Linked DNA regions of Homo sapiens: region 2 is reported to be linked to region 1. Evidence: microRNA targets listed by miRTarBase, many of them from high-throughput screens and not tested one by one. Region 1 holds a microRNA gene; the other region holds the end of a gene's coding sequence.
What was found. The annotated mature microRNA hsa-miR-183-5p reads UAUGGCACUGGUAGAAUUCACU and lies in region 1 at 2,314-2,335, opposite strand. An mRNA with a match to its seed (bases 2 to 7 or 8) in the 3' UTR can be bound and repressed. Matches are read on the target gene's strand: a 7mer-m8 pairs with bases 2 to 8, a 7mer-A1 pairs with bases 2 to 7 and ends in A, and an 8mer does both.

Region 1 (4,026 bases):
CCAGGTCTGGCCCGGAACTAGGTAAATTAGGAGATCTAGAAACTAGCTTTGGCCTGAGGTCCTCCCCTGGAGCGCTGGAGCAGGGCCCCAGAGCAGCCGGGCCTGAAGCCTGGTGGAGGCACGCCCCCACACCAGTGCCTGCACTCGGGGCTCAGCAAAGGCGCCCACCTGGGCAGGTGTGAGGAGGTGGAGCCCAGCTGCAGACCACCCAGGGGCTGAGGGCAGCTTCTGTCATCCGGCCTTCCCCGCTAGGCAGGAAGGAGCAGAACCCTGGCCAGACACTCCAGAGGCTCCAGGGAAAAGCTCTAGAACCGGTCACTGCCAGGGGCCTTCCACCCCCCCTTGCTGGGTCTCTGTGCCCACCCCACCTCCAGGGCTCATTCTCACTCAGGCCGGGAAATCCCTTCTTTCCTATCCCATGGGACCTGCAGCAGGACGCCCTAAGGAAGCACCCGGGGCGGAGGACTGGAGCACAGAGACAGGGTGCGGCACAGGCCAGCCAGGTTCCGAGGGGCAGAGGGAGAGCTGGGGCCATCAGAAGAGAGACCTAGCTACAGGGACACCTCACCAGGGCAGAAGTCCCCTTCTATCCTGAAATAAACAAGCCCCTCCTTTTTTCTGCAGGGGCTTGGAGAGCTTCTGTAGAGAAACACGGGCACCACACCCCAGAGGGAATTTATTGGGGGCTCCTCGCGGTTTGGTGATAGCTAACTGACAAGAAAAAAAAGGCCCAACCCACCCAAGGCAGTCCCCAGGGCACCCAGGCAGGCAGCACTGGTCACCATGTTCCTGCTGTGCAGTCAACTGGACCCGTCATCCTCCAGCTGCCAGCTTCAACCACACACATCCCCCACCCGGGCACTCCCTGGCTCAGACACCTAAAATGACTCCCACTGATCTGGGCTAAGTCCACCAACCCTTGCCTGAGGCTCCCTGGGGAGAAGCAGCCCCATCAGGGGCTGGCCCAGTGACCTGGGGCATGATAGCTCCCAGCTGGTCCCAAGTCGGCCACTGGTCTCCTGCTTGATTGCTGACCACCAGATTTCACATGGGTCCAGCCTGGCTGGCCAGGCTCTCCCCAGCTTTGACAGACTAGGTCCAGGCCTCCCAGCCTCAGTCTCTGCCATCTGGGGCATCCTTGGGAGCCCAGGCCTGTAGATTCAGAGCTGAGACACCTCCAGGCCCTGGGTGCCTCCATGGAAGGTGTGGCTGGTGGCGGAAGAGCCACAGTGACCCAGCTCTACCACTCACCAACCTCTTCAGCCAAGCCTTTCCTCTCAAAGCCTCAGGTTCCCCATCTATGAGATAACTATTTTAAAAAATTACAAGCCCCACAGGGCTGAGGTGGGAACTGTTGGGATTATATATGTAATGTCACCTGACACCCAGATGGAGAGCATAGGCCAGTTAGTCATAGCCCAGATCCAGGGACCCAGGAAGCTACATTACCAGTGTGTGGTGTGTGAAGGGGAACATTGGCCTCTGCTCCAGAACCTTCTAGGGGCAGGCCTGAAAATGCCCTCCAACTCCGAGCCCCACTAAGTATCCTCCTCTTGGAGCTGTTCGGAGATGACCCACTCCACAGCAGGCTACAGCTCCAGAGACGGTAGCCCCCCTGGAAACACCCAGGCTGACCTCAAGGGCAGCCCACCTGCCTGGAGCTGCCCCCTTCACAACCTGCAGCAGAAAAGACCAGGCCCTGTGCTGCCAGCCAAGGTCTCACCCCAAGCGTGTGCTGGGAGCCTGGCTGGGCCTTTCCAACCCACGGCACCATTCAGGATGGCCCTACAGATGGTTTCAGACTCCCCCACCTCTGCCCTGGGCGGCCCCATCTGCTGGCCCAGCTCAGATTGCTGGGCTCCCAGCTCTACCGTGGCCCCAGGCAGTGTAAGGCGATCTGGCTGCCCACCAGCGCTGGGCCCTCACACAGCAGCTGAGCCAGATGGGCTGGGGAGGCGGTGAGGAGGCCTTGAGGAGGAGCAGGCTGGGGCCCTGACACAAGGATGCAGGGGAGGCGGACGCAGCTGCGGGTCCTGCTTTTCCCATATTGGCACTGCACATGATTGCTCAGAGCGGAGAGACACAAGCAAAAATGTGCTAGTGCCAAAATCGGCCAAGCAGATGGCACTGGTGCGGGCTCTCTGGGGACACACTGGACGAGGGGCCTTGCATCCCTGCACCCTTGGAAGCAGCCTGTTTCCGACGTCTAGGAGCACTCAAGGCAGAAGTGGGTAAGGTGCTCCGGAGGCCCTCGTGGATCTGTCTCTGCTCTGTTTATGGCCCTTCGGTAATTCACTGACTGAGACTGTTCACAGTGAATTCTACCAGTGCCATACACAGAACAGGAGTCACACTCTGCGGCCTGCCGACCCTGCGGAGAGACCAGCGGCCCACGATGCCCGTTCCCTGCTCCTAGCCTGCCCACTCCCTTGGGGGCCCCCCAGCAGGCCCTCAGCAGCGGCTGCTACGGTCTCTACCCCCCACCCCATCCCACCTCTTCACAAGATCCACATGCCCCATCAGCCCAAGATGACCTTCAAGGAGACAGGGACAGTGCGGGAGAGGAGCTGACCTTCTGGCCTTGCAGAGGAGAAGACCACACCAAGGTGTCTCCTATCTCCACCTGAAGGCCCACATCCCTCCACATCACCCAGACTGCGCCTCCAGGCTGGGGAGGGAGTGGGTCAGGACCATCCATCTCCTTGCCAGAGTAACTCTGGCTCGGAGAGGCAAGCAGCTGGCCAGAGCCTCCTCTCTACCCAACCTGCCACAGGGGCAGTGACCAGTGGGACATCCAAGATGCCTCTCGTAGCCTCTGAGCCCAGACACCAGCAGCCCAGGCTCCTAGGCACTTTGGTCTCCATTATCCTCCACCCCCCAGCCTGCCCTGTGGCAGAAACAGAGCCCCAGGAACAAACCGAATCTGCTGCTCACCCCCACTCCCATCCCAAACCAGACCAGATTGGGCCAGACTGTGAACCGCCCAGGCTGGGCATCTCTGCTGCCGGCCTAGGATCAAGGCAGGAAAAGGCCAGGAAAGGAGGGCAGAAGAGAAGTCCTGCAGCCACCCAGGTGGCTTGGAGGGAGCCGGAGGCACGGATGCACTCTAGCAAGGGAGTGGCTCCTGGCTGGCTCTGGAGTGACTGCGGAGGAAAGCGGAGGCTCAGGAGCGAGGGAGGGGCTGGGAAGGTTGCATCAGTGGTTGCCAGAGCAGCTGCCTAGAGAGAAGTTGCTGTGGAGGCCCTGCCTCTGGTGTCACAGGCCCTGGGGAAGGACGGGAAGAAGGGAGAGGGTGGGAGGGAGGGTCTCTGGGGAGCTGGCACCCAGGGCAGGCAAGCTGGGGCCTCCGCAGAGTGGCCACTAGAGTCTCAGCCTACTCCAGGTCAGCGGTGGCCCAGAAGGCAGGGTGGCTAGAAAATATCCTGGAAGGGTCAGAGCAGGTGCCCTGGCCCAGAAACTATGCAGACCTCTTGGCGATGTTACCCCCAGGAACTACCTCCCGTGGACCTCAGAGCTCCATCTGGGTACCTTGGCCAAAGCCATCCGCTCTCCCCTAGACACTGCTTAATGCTCCACCCTTCCTGCTCCCGAGGACTCTTTGTCCTGCTCCCACACACCCCCACTACAGGGCTCTGCCCTTCTAGCTGGTCTATCTCCCCAGAGGACAATCCAGCTTGATGAGGTGGTGATCTCAGGAAGTCACTCCTCAGCCTTCTGCCTCAGTTTCCCTTACTACAATTTTCTGAACTCTACTAAGGAAGAGAGACCAGACTTCCCAGCCTTGGGTGGGGAGGGGAAGGGGTGATGGCAGGGTGTTAGCAAAGAGTATGGGGTGGGTAGTTATGAACATTGCTTAGGGTGTAGCCATAAGCATCACCCAAGGAGCCTGTTGAAATGTAGATTCTTGAGCCTGCCTGGAAATCTGCATTTTAATAGCACCCTGACAGCTCAGCATGGGGTGGGGGTGGGGGTGGGAAGATCTATTTTGAGAAATCTTTCCCAAGAAGCCTCACCCTGGGATAATTA
Region 2 (4,026 bases), not on the chromosome of region 1:
GGCACCCACAGCTGCTGGGTTCCTTACTCTCCTGGACTGCTCTGATGTCATCTCCCTGCTCAGCAGAAAGAAGTCTGGGATCTTGATGCTTTGGCCCTCTGTCCTAGGCCCTAAACCACCCATTGCCCTTCACATAACCTGAGCTGGGGCTAAATAGATCTCTCATCACTGCCTGCCTGCTCCTGTATTTTCCCTTCTTGGAGCTTTTGCCTGTTCAGATCCCTCTACTGGAAATTAATAGGATTTCATTCTATGTGTGCATTTCCAACCTTTCTTCACAGTGCGATCCAAATGCCTCATCCTACAGGCCTCCTTAAAACAACCTGCTTTCTGCCAGACCCCAGGGAGCACCAGGACTTGAGGCTTTTATTGCACTTCTGTTGTTTTTTTGAGATGGAGTCTCGCTCTGTCGCCCAGGCTGGAGTGCAGTGGCACGATCTCTGCTCACTGCAACCTCCATCTCCCGAGTTCAAGAGATTCTTCTGCCTCAGCCTCTCAAGCAGCTGGGACTACAGGCATGTGCCATGACACCCGGATAATTTTTGTATTTTTAGTAGAGACGGGGTTCACCATATTGGCCAGGCTGGTCTCAAACTCCTGACCTCGTGATCCACCCACCTGGGCCTCCCAAAGTTCTGGGATTACAGGCGTGAGCCACCATGCCCAGCGTTATTTCACTTCTGCCTCTGTAATTATATTGCTGTATGGCTATCTCTTCTCTCCCTGGGAATGTCAGGTCCTAGGCACAGGAACTGTGTCTGTACCATATCTGGTGCCCAAAGAATGTAGTATGTGTTTTATAGATATCATGTAAGCTTAAACAGCGTGGTCTACATTTTTGTAAATGTCTTTCTTTTTCTTTTCTCTCCAGAATGAGAGAAGACAGTGCTAGAGTCTATGAAAACGTGGGCCTGATGCAACAGCAGAAAAGTTTCAGATGAGAAAACCTGCCAAAACTTCAGCACAGAAATAGGTATTTAAATGCAAGTGCTCTATTGGTTAATTGTTTATATAATTGGCAGTATTTTTAAGCAGGCAAGCAATTTGGGAATGTTTTAGCAAAGTGTACCATAATTGAGTTTTACAAACCAGGCTCCTTTTTCCTCTCCCTGTACTTCTTTTTCCAAGATGGTTTTAGTTTAGAGTTCATTAAACATTAAAATCAAACACAGAATTAATTCTGCATGAGGCAAGGCTAGCACTTATTCCAGAGAAATGGCTGATACTGGTGGTAGAGTGCAGGTATCACTGTTCCTGCAATTTTTATTAGAGTTGGTTAGCCCAGGCTGTGCTGGGGGATGATCTGTAGGGATCTGGGAAGCATCGGGACTCAGCACTGGGTGGTTGGGAGTCAGGAAGCCTGAGTTCTCATTTCAGTCAGTCTCTGACCAACTGTGTGGCATGGGGTGCTAGACCACTTGGCTGCCGACTGGGTCACCGACATCCCTTCCAGCTCTGCTGCTGGAAATTCATCTCTCCCATATGTTGCCTCCCCATCAATTACGTTTTTTAAGTGTGACCCAAGTATATGATGTATGTTTTCATGATAAATTAGAAACTTATCTGGGCATGGTGGCTCATACCTGTAATCCCAGCACTTTGGGAGGCTGAGGTGGGCGGATCACCTGAGGTCAGGAGTTCGAGACCAGCCTGACCAACTAAAATAGTAGAGACCAACCCGTCTCTACTAAAAATAGAAAATTAGCTGAGCATGGTGGTGCATGCCTATAATCCCAGCTACTCAGGAGGCTGAGGCAGGAGAGGCAGCGGTTGCAGTGTGCCAAGATCGCGCCATTGCACTCCACCTGGGCCACAAGAGTGAAACTCCATCTCAAAAAAAAAAAAAAAAAAAAAAAAACTCAGTGTCAGTATTTCATGTCGAAATTCCACTTCAATGGGTAGTGTAGTTAAAAGCTCTAAGTCTACCTTAAAATCACCTAATGCTTTGTTAAGCTTTTAGATATATGTTCCTTAAAAACTCTTAACTTATTTCTTCCCCAGATGTGGACTTTCACCCTCTCCCTAAAAAGATCAAGAACAGACGCAAGAAAGTTTATGTGAAGACAGAATTTGGATTTGGAAGGCTTGCAATGTGGTTGACTACCTTTTGATAAGCAAAATTTGAAACCATTTAAAGACCACTGTATTTTAACTCAACAATACCTGCTTCCCAATTACTCATTTCCTCAGATAAGAAGAAATCATCTCTACAATGTAGACAACATTATATTTTATAGAATTTGTTTGAAATTGAGGAAGCAGTTAAATTGTGCGCTGTATTTTGCAGATTATGGGGATTCAAATTCTAGTAATAGGCTTTTTTATTTTTATTTTTATACCCTTAACCAGTTTAATTTTTTTTTTCCTCATTGTTGGGGATGATGAGAAGAAATGATTTGGGAAAATTAAGTAACAACGACCTAGAAAAGTGAGAACAATCTCATTTACCATCATGTATCCAGTAGTGGATAATTCATTTTGATGGCTTCTATTTTTGGCCAAATGAGAATTAAGCCAGTGCCTGAGACTGTCAGAAGTTGACCTTTGCACTGGCATTAAAGAGTCATAGAAAAAGAATCATGGATATTTATGAATTAAGGTAAGAGGTGTGGCTTTTTTTTTTTTCTTTTTTCCAGCCGTTGACCAATTATAGTTCGGCTGTTGACTGAGAAGTTTGTGGTGGGAAAACGTTTGCCATATTTTCTTTGCATTTGAATAATTGTCTTGTACTTAGAAAAAAGGCGTCTATGAATGACCAGTGTTTTTGGTCGCCAAATGTTGCTGACAAACTTATCCCAAAACTTTAGTGGCTTAAAAAAACCTGCCCCCAACTGTTAGTCAATCTGAGCTGGGCTCAGCTGGGCTGTTCTTCTGCCAGCCTGCAGGTGGCCACTCATGTGGTCAGCAGGTCGGCGGAGAGACTGGGATGGCTGGGCTTCTCTCTCTGCCTGCAGTCCTGAGTCTCTCCTTCTTCGTGTAGTCTCTTTCAGTGGCCTGGCTGGCAGGGTAGCTAGACCTCTCACATGCAGCTCAGAGCTCCCAAGAGCTCAAAAGCAGAAATGGCCAGGCCTTCTGAAAACTTAAGTCCAGAATTGTCACAGTGTCCCTTCTACTTCCCTCTATTGATGATGATGATGATGATGATGATGATGATGATGATGATGATGATGGTTTTTTCTAATCAGAAGAAAGCTGGGGTATGCCCTCTACTTACTAAACAAGTCACAAGCCCAGCTCAGATTCAAGAAAAGGGTGTGAAGTAGAGGTGCAGTTAAGTGGGGGGCCACTAGTCTAACAGACGGTCACAACCAGTGCCATGGAAAACCAAGGATATTAGCAAAAGCAGAAGTTGCTAGTGACCTTGGGAAGCCGAAGCTGCTTACAGTAGCTGGGACAAGCTGAAAGTCAGACTAAGAAATAAAGAGAGGGCCTTCAAGAAGCTTCCTGAATGATTTCTGCTAGCCCTGAGCCTATTTTTGGAACCAGCACTTGGGGAAACTGATCTTGTGAGGATGGATGTGTTTAGGGACACAGGGCTTTTGAGAGCAGCACCACCCCACTGGGGCATCCCCAGACTTGGGAAACGTGACTCTTTCTTAATGCCACTGGGTTTTAGTCAGGCCACAGTGAGAAGGAACAGCCCTAACAGGCCTCCAGCCAGGTTGAATGAGCTCATTTTTGTTGTAGCCAACCAGTAAGATTTGCTAATGTTCTACATTAAGTGCCTTCTCCAAAGACATCCCTCTTTGCCTCATATGTTGAATCATCCAGTGCGGATATTTCAATGAAAATATCATTGGTTGACTTTTGTGATGGTAATAATGCTATGGCATCTTTGCCATGAAGTTGTGGCCTCCTTGGATTCTTCTGACTTTGGCTTCTGAAAGGAAGGCCTAGATCCAGCCCTGGTGGTAGTTCCTTTCTGAGGTCTCTCAGTCCCTTGAGACTTTGGGGTAGTTTGGCTGCCATTCTCACTGACAAAATGTATATCAGCCCCCACCTCCACCCCCCAATATTCCTTGAACT

Region 2: miRTarBase lists PTPN11 as a target of hsa-miR-183-5p. Seed matches in the 3' UTR shown: 7mer-A1 at 2,693-2,699 and 7mer-m8 at 3,312-3,318.

The regions. Positions count from the first base shown.
Region 1 is chr7:129,772,654-129,776,679 of GRCh38, forward strand. It overlaps MIR183 (microRNA 183), which reads right to left and starts at 2,361; the gene lies at 2,252-2,361. MIR96 (microRNA 96) reads right to left here and starts at 2,116; the gene lies at 2,039-2,116. RefSeq lists an enhancer at 580-1,441.
Region 2 is chr12:112,503,824-112,507,849 of GRCh38, forward strand. PTPN11 (protein tyrosine phosphatase non-receptor type 11) reads left to right here. Exons shown (of 16, transcript NM_002834.5): 15 at 872-973; 16 at 2,002-4,026. The coding sequence ends at 941. Among named protein-coding and RNA genes, the nearest start is that of PTPN11, 87 kb to the left of the region's middle.